Linked DNA regions of Homo sapiens. The protein of the gene in region 1 purifies or fractionates together with the protein of each later gene. This does not show direct contact. Each region holds a gene or a part of one and is shown on either strand. Other genes may lie near its edges. The genes, in order: DNAAF1 and ANKMY2.

Region 1 (3,821 bases):
GAGGTACCCAGAAATGCCTCTCCTATTCGTGCCCCATCAAAGGACAGTTCTTGGGGGGTTGTGAGACAATGTGTGAATTCCCATGGTACCATTCTTGTGGGCCTAAGCATTTGAGACTGTCAACAAAATGGGAAGAGCTTCAGGGAAGAGTGACAGGCAAGGCTGCGATCAAACATTCACTCAAGGGGATGGGACACTGAACCGTCACACCTCCATGAGCCAGAAGGCCAGTGAGAGCCTAAGCTACCTGCTGGGCGGTGTCCACGGAGGGGGGAAAAGATACAATGTATAAAGATACAATGTAACTGATGATACAATGTAACTCTCACCACGAATTTGGATAAGGCAACTAGTCAGAACCACTTAGCAAGATAGCTTCTTTGGCAAAAAGGAATCAAGAGTTTGGTAGACATGGTTCAAGGGTAGCGATTTGGGTCAGGGCTCCCCAAACTTGAGCATGCATGTGCACGAATCACCTAGGGCAGTGCATGAAAGTTGGATTCTAATCAGTGGGCCTGGGGTGAGGCCTGGGAGTCTGCATTTCTAACCAGCGCCCCAGAAATGCCAGGCCTGCCGGCCCAAGGACCACACTTGGGGTATCGAGGGTCTCCAAAGTCTGCATCTGATTACCTATTTTACTAACAGTAAAACTGATACTTATCTCCAAGATTAAATACTTCATGTACATCAATGCAGAATGTCTCCTTTGTCTCCAGTCTAATGGTTTCTAAATCTTCCGTTCTCGTTCCATCAAGTTCTGTAACGAATACACCCTCAGTGGCCACAGCCTGGGGAGTCGGTTCTAAAGAGCAACAACAAGTCTTGGAGTTAGTTTAACACACGGCAGGCAGATGGACGAGCCTACGGTGAAGATGGGCTCCCAAGGGCCGGGCTCGGTGGCTCATGCCTGTAATCCCAACACTTTGGGGGGCCAAGGTGGGCGGATCACAAGGTCAGAAGTTTGAGTCCAGCCTGGCCAACACAGTGAAACCCCCGTGTCTATTAAAAATGCAAAAATTAGCCAGGTGTGGTGGCGGGCACCTGTAGTCTCAGCTACTTGGGAGGCTGAGGCAGGAGAATAGCTTGAACCTGGGAGAGGGAGGTTGCAATGAGCCGAGATTGTGCCACTGCACTCCAGCCTGGGTGATAGAGCGAGACTTCATCTCAAAAAAAAAAAAAAAAGACAAAAACCCTCCTCAGGGCCCAAAGGCCAGCCTCCATGACAAACACGGCAGCTCACCACAGGCTTCTGTCTGCTGGAAAAAGAACGGAACGGCTGCCCTTTTCTGTAATCTGGAGGCGAATCCCATGAGATGAAGAGCACCGGCCAGGAGTCAAAGCAGCAGCCGCAGGAATCTTGGAAATGGCAGCCGACTGCAGGGTGACAAGGGATGCCAGCAGGGGCGACTCGCTCAGAGACGGAGGGGCAGGCTTCACAGCCCACCGCCAGCCTGTCCCTCAGCCAGGCACACGCCCCTCCTGCTGCACCAGGGTCAGAGCTTGTGCAGTTTCATAACTGTGAGATCGCCTGAGGAATGTGGAATCGCGAGGAGCCCCTTCCTCATCCAGGCCCCTACTTTTCCTTTTTATTTACTTATTTTTATTTTGTTGATACAGGGTCTCACTCTGTCACCCCGGCTGGAGTGCAGTGGTGCAATCTCAGCTCACTGCAGCCTCGACCTCCCATCCCCTTCCCCTCCCACCTCAGCCTCCCAAGTAGCTGGGACTACAAGTGGTCACCACTATGCCCAGCTAATTTATTGTTTTTTGTAGAGGCTTGGGGGTTGCGGGGAAGGGGGCTTCTCACTATGTTGGCCAGGCTGGTCTCGAACTCCCGGCCTCAAGCAATCTGCCTGCCTCGGCCTCCCACAGTGCTGGGATTACATGTGTGAGCCACCTCGCAAGGCCTGCCCCTACTTTTCCCCCGGGCTGTATCCTTGGGTCCTGTGCTCTGATCCCTCCATTGCTCTCGGGGCTTCGTTTATGTCAGAGATGAATGGCCTACCTTTCACCAGTAAAAAGTTACCGTTCAGCCATGTCAAATACATACTGGATTTTGATGACTTAATTTTTGAAAAAAGTAAAATAGCTCACTGATAATTTTTATATTGATTCCATGTTAACATGATTATATTTTTTATATATTGCGTTAAATTAAACATGTCATTAATAGTTTTACTGTTTTTTTACTTTTTACTTTTTAATTAATTTATTAATCAATTTATTTTTTGAGGGAGGGTCTCACTCTGTCACCCAGGCTGGAGTGCAGTGGCACAATCTTGGCTCACTGCAGCCTCAACCTCTGGGGCTCAAGCAATCCTCTTGCCTCAGCCTCCTGAGTAGCTGGGACTACAGGGGCACACCACAATTCCCAGCTAATTTTTGTAGTTTTGGTAGGGATGAGGTCTCTGTATTTCTGAGGCTGGTCTGAAACTCCTGGCCTCAATCAGTCCTTCTGCCTTGGCCTCCCAAAGTTCCTTTTGCTTTTTTAAATAGAGCTATTAGAGAATCTAGTAGTGGCTCCTGTTCCATTTCTGTTGGGCAGCCCTGTTCTAGAAAACAAGATAACTAGTGTCCATTATCTTCTAGAAACAGCAATACAGAAGAAGTGAAACTCAGGCCCCAGGTCCCACAGAGACGTGAGTCGAAGGCTGGGGCTCCCTGAGAGGTGTGTGTGTCTGTGTGTGTTTCTCCGCTCACATTACCTTCCCTGGCAGCTCCCAGGGGCGGTGGTGGTGGGGCCTCAGCTGGGAGGGTCCCCTCTGGCTCTCGATCTCCATCCTCTCCTTTAACCTTCACAGGCGGTGACAGTAGCAGGGTCTCAGCTGGGAGGGTCCCCTCTGGCTCTTGATCTCCATCCTCTCCTTTAACCTCCACAGGTGGCGGGGGTGGTGGGGCCTCAGCTGGGAGGGTCCCCTCTGGCTCTCCATCTCCGTCCTCTCCTTTAACCTCCACAGGTGACGACAGTAGCAGGGTCTCAGCTGGGAGGGTCCCCTCTGGCTCTGGACCTCCATCCTCTCTTTTAGCCTCCACAGGCGGCTCCTCTCCACTTGGCTTTTCCGGGCAGAGCTCGTCCTTGGCCTCAAAGCTTTCCTTAACAAATAGCTCCATCTTCTGCCTTGTTTCTCTGTCCCCGGGAGGCTCCTCCTTGCCTTCCGCACTGGCGGGCACATTCTCACCATCATCTGAAGATGTCATCTCCCCTAATGGCAGAAAATGCAAAGGTGAATGTGGGAGTGTCCTGGGAGGACAAGGGTGTTTGTGGGTACATCAAGGGCTCACAGCAAACTTCTGAGACCAGGGAAAAGGTCAGGAACACAGTTAAAAAAGTGTCCTCAAGGGGCTGGGCGCGGTGGCTCGTGCCTGTAATCCCAGCACTTTGGGAGGCCGAGGAGGGTGGATCACTTGAGGCCAGGAGTTCAAAACCAGGCTGGCCAACATGACGAAACCCCATCTCCACTAAAAATACAAAAAATTACTCGGATGTGGTGGCACGTGCCTGTAGCCCCAGCTACTCAAGAGGCTGAGGCAGGAGAATCGCTTGAACCTGGGAGGTGGAGGCTGCAGTGAGCCAAGATCGCGCCACTGCACTCCAGCCTGGGAGACAGAGCGAGACTCTGTCTCCAAAAAAAATTATAAATAAATAAGGAACATAGTTTAAAAAGTGTCCTCGAGGCGCTGGGCATGGTAGCTCATGCTTGTAATCCCAGCATTTTGGGAGGCCCAGGCAGGTGGATCATTTGACATCAGGAGTTCAAAACCAGCCTGACAAACATGGTGAAACCTCATCTCTAGTGAAAAAAAAATACAAAAAAATAATA
Region 2 (3,821 bases), on another chromosome or scaffold:
TGTAGTCCCAGCTACTCGGGAGGCTGAGACATGAGAATCGCTTGAACCCGGAAGACTGAGGTTGTAATGAGCTGAGATTGCGCCACTGCACTCCAGCCTGGGTAACAAAACAAGACCCCCCTCAATAAATAAATAAAAATAATAATAATTATACTCTATAAACTCTAATTACATTATTCTATTATATGGAGCTAGGATAACTTGTTGACCACAATATTGACCTGCTTTTTTTTTTTTTTTTTTTTTTTAAAGAACTCTGGGTTGCTGTTTTAGTTTTTCTGTTTTTTCCCAGGAAGGTAAAAGGTCAGCAACCATTTGTGAGTGCTGGAAATCCCACATAACAGGTACTGCTAGTTGCTTCTCTGATATCAATTCTCCCAGCTTCCTCAGTAACAGAAGTGTAATTTTGTTCAGAGGAGGAGTGTTTAGAAAAGCCAAAAAAAAAAATTTTCCTGGACTCCTGTGTAGCTAAGGAAAGTCATGTGACACAGGCAGAGGGCTTCTGGGAGAGCTTATGTTTTCCAGATATAGACCCCTTTGCTCTTCCTGCCTGCCTGGGATAGGAATGTGAGCTGGAGGAGGAACATCAAATGCCTCGTAACCATGAGATCATAAGTATGCATATGAGAACCTACACAGCTAAGGAATATTGGAAGGGAAAGATGAGAAAGTGTTTGGGTCCCCAAACTATTTTTAAGTCACTATGCCAGACCTAGTCTGCCTACCTTTGGGCATCTATGTATATGTGAATACATAAACCCTCATCTATTTAATTCATGGTTGGTTGGGCTTTGATATGTGCTGCCAAGACACATTTGTAATTGACAAATCATAATTTGCTAACTTTATTCTTCCAAAAGCATAAACACTAAATAGCCAACTATATTAAAAAGTATGAGTAAAGAAACTCTTGAAAATAGGGGGAGCACACATGAACAAATTAATGCATGAGCTTTATGAGATGGTCTTTTCTGCTCAGGTCTTTCTTGTTTATTTTATGGCTCAGACTAGGTGAATTCTTAATGTACAAAGGAGCATCTGGAGCCCACTTGAAGCCCTGATGTTCCACACTGAGAATGACATAACAACCCAGAGAGAAGGCACAGAGAAGGGAACCAGATTTGCCAGAGGGAGGGAGGAAGCCATGGATGGGACTGGTCTTAGGATCAATTTCTTGCCTGATAGACAAAAGCTGATCAAGTTTTTGATTGAAACGTATAAAAGCATGAATGGGTATAGATAGGGTAAACAAAAACCTATTCAAAATAGAAAAGGTGGCTGGGCGCAGTGGGTCATGCCTGTAATCCCAGCACTTTGGGAAGCCGAGGTGGGTAGATCACCTGAGTCAGGAGTTCGAGACCAACCTGGTCAACATGGTGAAATCCCATCTCTACTAAAAATACAAAAATTAGCTGGGCGTGGTGGCGCGCACCTATAGTCCCAGCCACTCAGGAGGCTGAAGCAGGAGAATCGCTTGAACCTGGGAAATGGAGGTTGCAGTGAGCTGAGATTGTGCCACTGCACTCCAGCCTAGGCGACAGAAACAGACTCTGTCGCAAAATAGAAAAGGCCAAATAAATTAAAATATATGACAAATGAATAGTAAGTCATTTAAATAACAGATAAAGTTAACAAAATACACTTATATAGTGGGTAAGTATAAATAGGTTGTAAGTATGGACATTTTCTAATCAGAGGCATTAAGGTGGATTATAGGAAGCTGAGGCATACTTTGAGATTGTTACCAGGAACCACAATGAGCCTTCCCATGGCTTATCCCACTACATCCCCACTGCCTGGACACTATCCCCCTAGGTGATCAATTCATACTTGCATCTAGTGTATGACTTTGTGCTGATAATTCATATAGCTACAAGTGTACATGTGTGTACCTATATTACATAGTGGATGTACTTAAAATGTAAGTTTCTACCCTAACCATCTACATTTCAACATAGCGACGTCCTGTTTATGAAACTATGAACCATAATAAGGTAAGAAGAGGATCGTGAGATGGGAAATAAATAAACAGGAACAGGTTTGGCAGGCAAACCTATCTCCACCTTTGTTCCTAAAAATATTCTGAAATAATAAAAATAAATATTAAAGAGAACTTGCCTTTAACAATACAATAGGTGGGAATTAGGTTTTACTGATAGAGTCAACTTAGGTAAGAGGAGCCTTACAATTTCAACAGGAGCAATGCTTCGAACCAGCTGCTGGAGGAGTGTAGCTTCACAGTAAGGAAATTTTCTGATACTTTCTCTAATGATCTTTTCTTGATACACTGGAAAGCCATCAGAAGCTCGGCCTTTTAACAAGCTGAAAGATATTTTTTAAAGCGTAATTGGAGTTGAATCACTAAGCATTCTCTCCTAGTTGAACCCAACAGTTTTTAGTAGTTTCTTCTGTTACTTATGATTTTCTTTGTCTCTTCAAATCATGATGACGGGCTCAGTTCAAATTGCTGTTCAACCTATATGTTAGGCTAGGCCTTATAAGGTTTTCCAGCCCATTAAATGAATATGCAAAGGTGACTACCACCATAAAACACACTAAACACTGTTATCAGATTAGCTAGTTACTTATTACCATGTCAGTTATTTGTACTAAGAATGAAAACTCTCATAGAGCCACACCCTTCAGACTTAGTTCCCTTTTCTAGGTAAGGATGCAAGAGAATTTGATCTCTGGTGGTCAGAGAAGCAGCATAACACACAGCTCTCCAAGATACAGTAACAGAGACACCCTGGATGCCATTACAAACCTAGGGCTGCGACCTAGGGCATAAAATATTCTCAAATTTGGACTTGGGCCACTTTCTCGCGGTGTGATCTTACACATGTTATTTAACCTCTCCAAACCTCAGATTCCTCATCTGTAAATTGCTGGTAACAACAAAAACATCACAGTAAAGGATACAGAACTGAATAATCACTCAATATAAGTATAATATTATTCTCTGTTTGTCAAAGACTAAATGTGAGTCCAACAACAGCAATTGCTGCCAAAATGTTTAATTTTGAAACACATAATAATGAGGCTTCATATTAAAAAAAATATTCACTTGAGTGTATTTTATAAACGACATAGTAAAAAGAGTACCTTTTGATCAAGGTGTCCAGTTTATTCTCTCCATCTTTTAAGAAGTTAATGCATTTCTGAAAGATACAGCTTATGTAATGCATCTTCATAGCCAATACTTCATTCATGTCTCTTTGCTTCATACATTTCTCACAAATCAAATCCATCACTCTGTAGCATTTATTCAGGGCTGCTTCTTCTGTCAGCAGAGGATTCTCATTTACAAGCATCACGATCTAGAGGAAATCCCAGTGTACTCAGGTATTAAAGGAGACACTTGTTCATGTACAAATTAGGTAGTCCATTTAGTTGATTTCAAAAGATTACCAAAGAAAGCCTTCCTTAGGATCATGAAGTTATTATGTTATTTGTTAGAATGCAAATTACCCAGAACTTATAGAACTAATATAGAAAGACCCTGAAATAGTGGAATCTCTTGAACTCTGTATATCAAAGTTATAATGTGATCTTCCATCTACCTACACCACAGTGCCAGTATGCCATTCAAGAGCACATGATTTTACAGTCTCTGTTAAATTCACTTTTACTAAAGATAAACATGACAAATTTGTACATTTTACATAAAGAATCAAATCATTGAGCAATAACCACTTTTAGTTAACATTACTCAGCTCTAGAATTTCATGGCTAGGAGAACTACAATTCTCATTAATTCTTATTAAGCACAAGAAAATGAGATTTTTTCAGAATGAAGTCTAAAAATGAAATATGCTTTA

The links.
Region 2: the proteins of DNAAF1 (region 1) and ANKMY2 purify together in Homo sapiens (affinity purification with mass spectrometry; one large-scale study listed by BioGRID and IntAct). This does not show direct contact.

Annotation. Positions count from the first base shown.
Region 1 is NC_000016.10:84,169,241-84,173,061, reverse strand, and holds part of DNAAF1 (dynein axonemal assembly factor 1), read right to left. Parts: intron 3,204-3,821; coding exon 2,706-3,203; intron 803-2,705; coding exon 687-802; intron 1-686. UniProt on the Homo sapiens protein: Cilium-specific protein required for the stability of the ciliary architecture. Plays a role in cytoplasmic preassembly of dynein arms. Involved in regulation of microtubule-based cilia and actin-based brush border microvilli.
Region 2 is NC_000007.14:16,607,444-16,611,264, forward strand, and holds part of ANKMY2 (ankyrin repeat and MYND domain-containing protein 2), read right to left. Parts: intron 3,321-3,821; coding exon 3,106-3,320; intron 2,323-3,105; coding exon 2,187-2,322; intron 1-2,186. UniProt on the Homo sapiens protein: May be involved in the trafficking of signaling proteins to the cilia.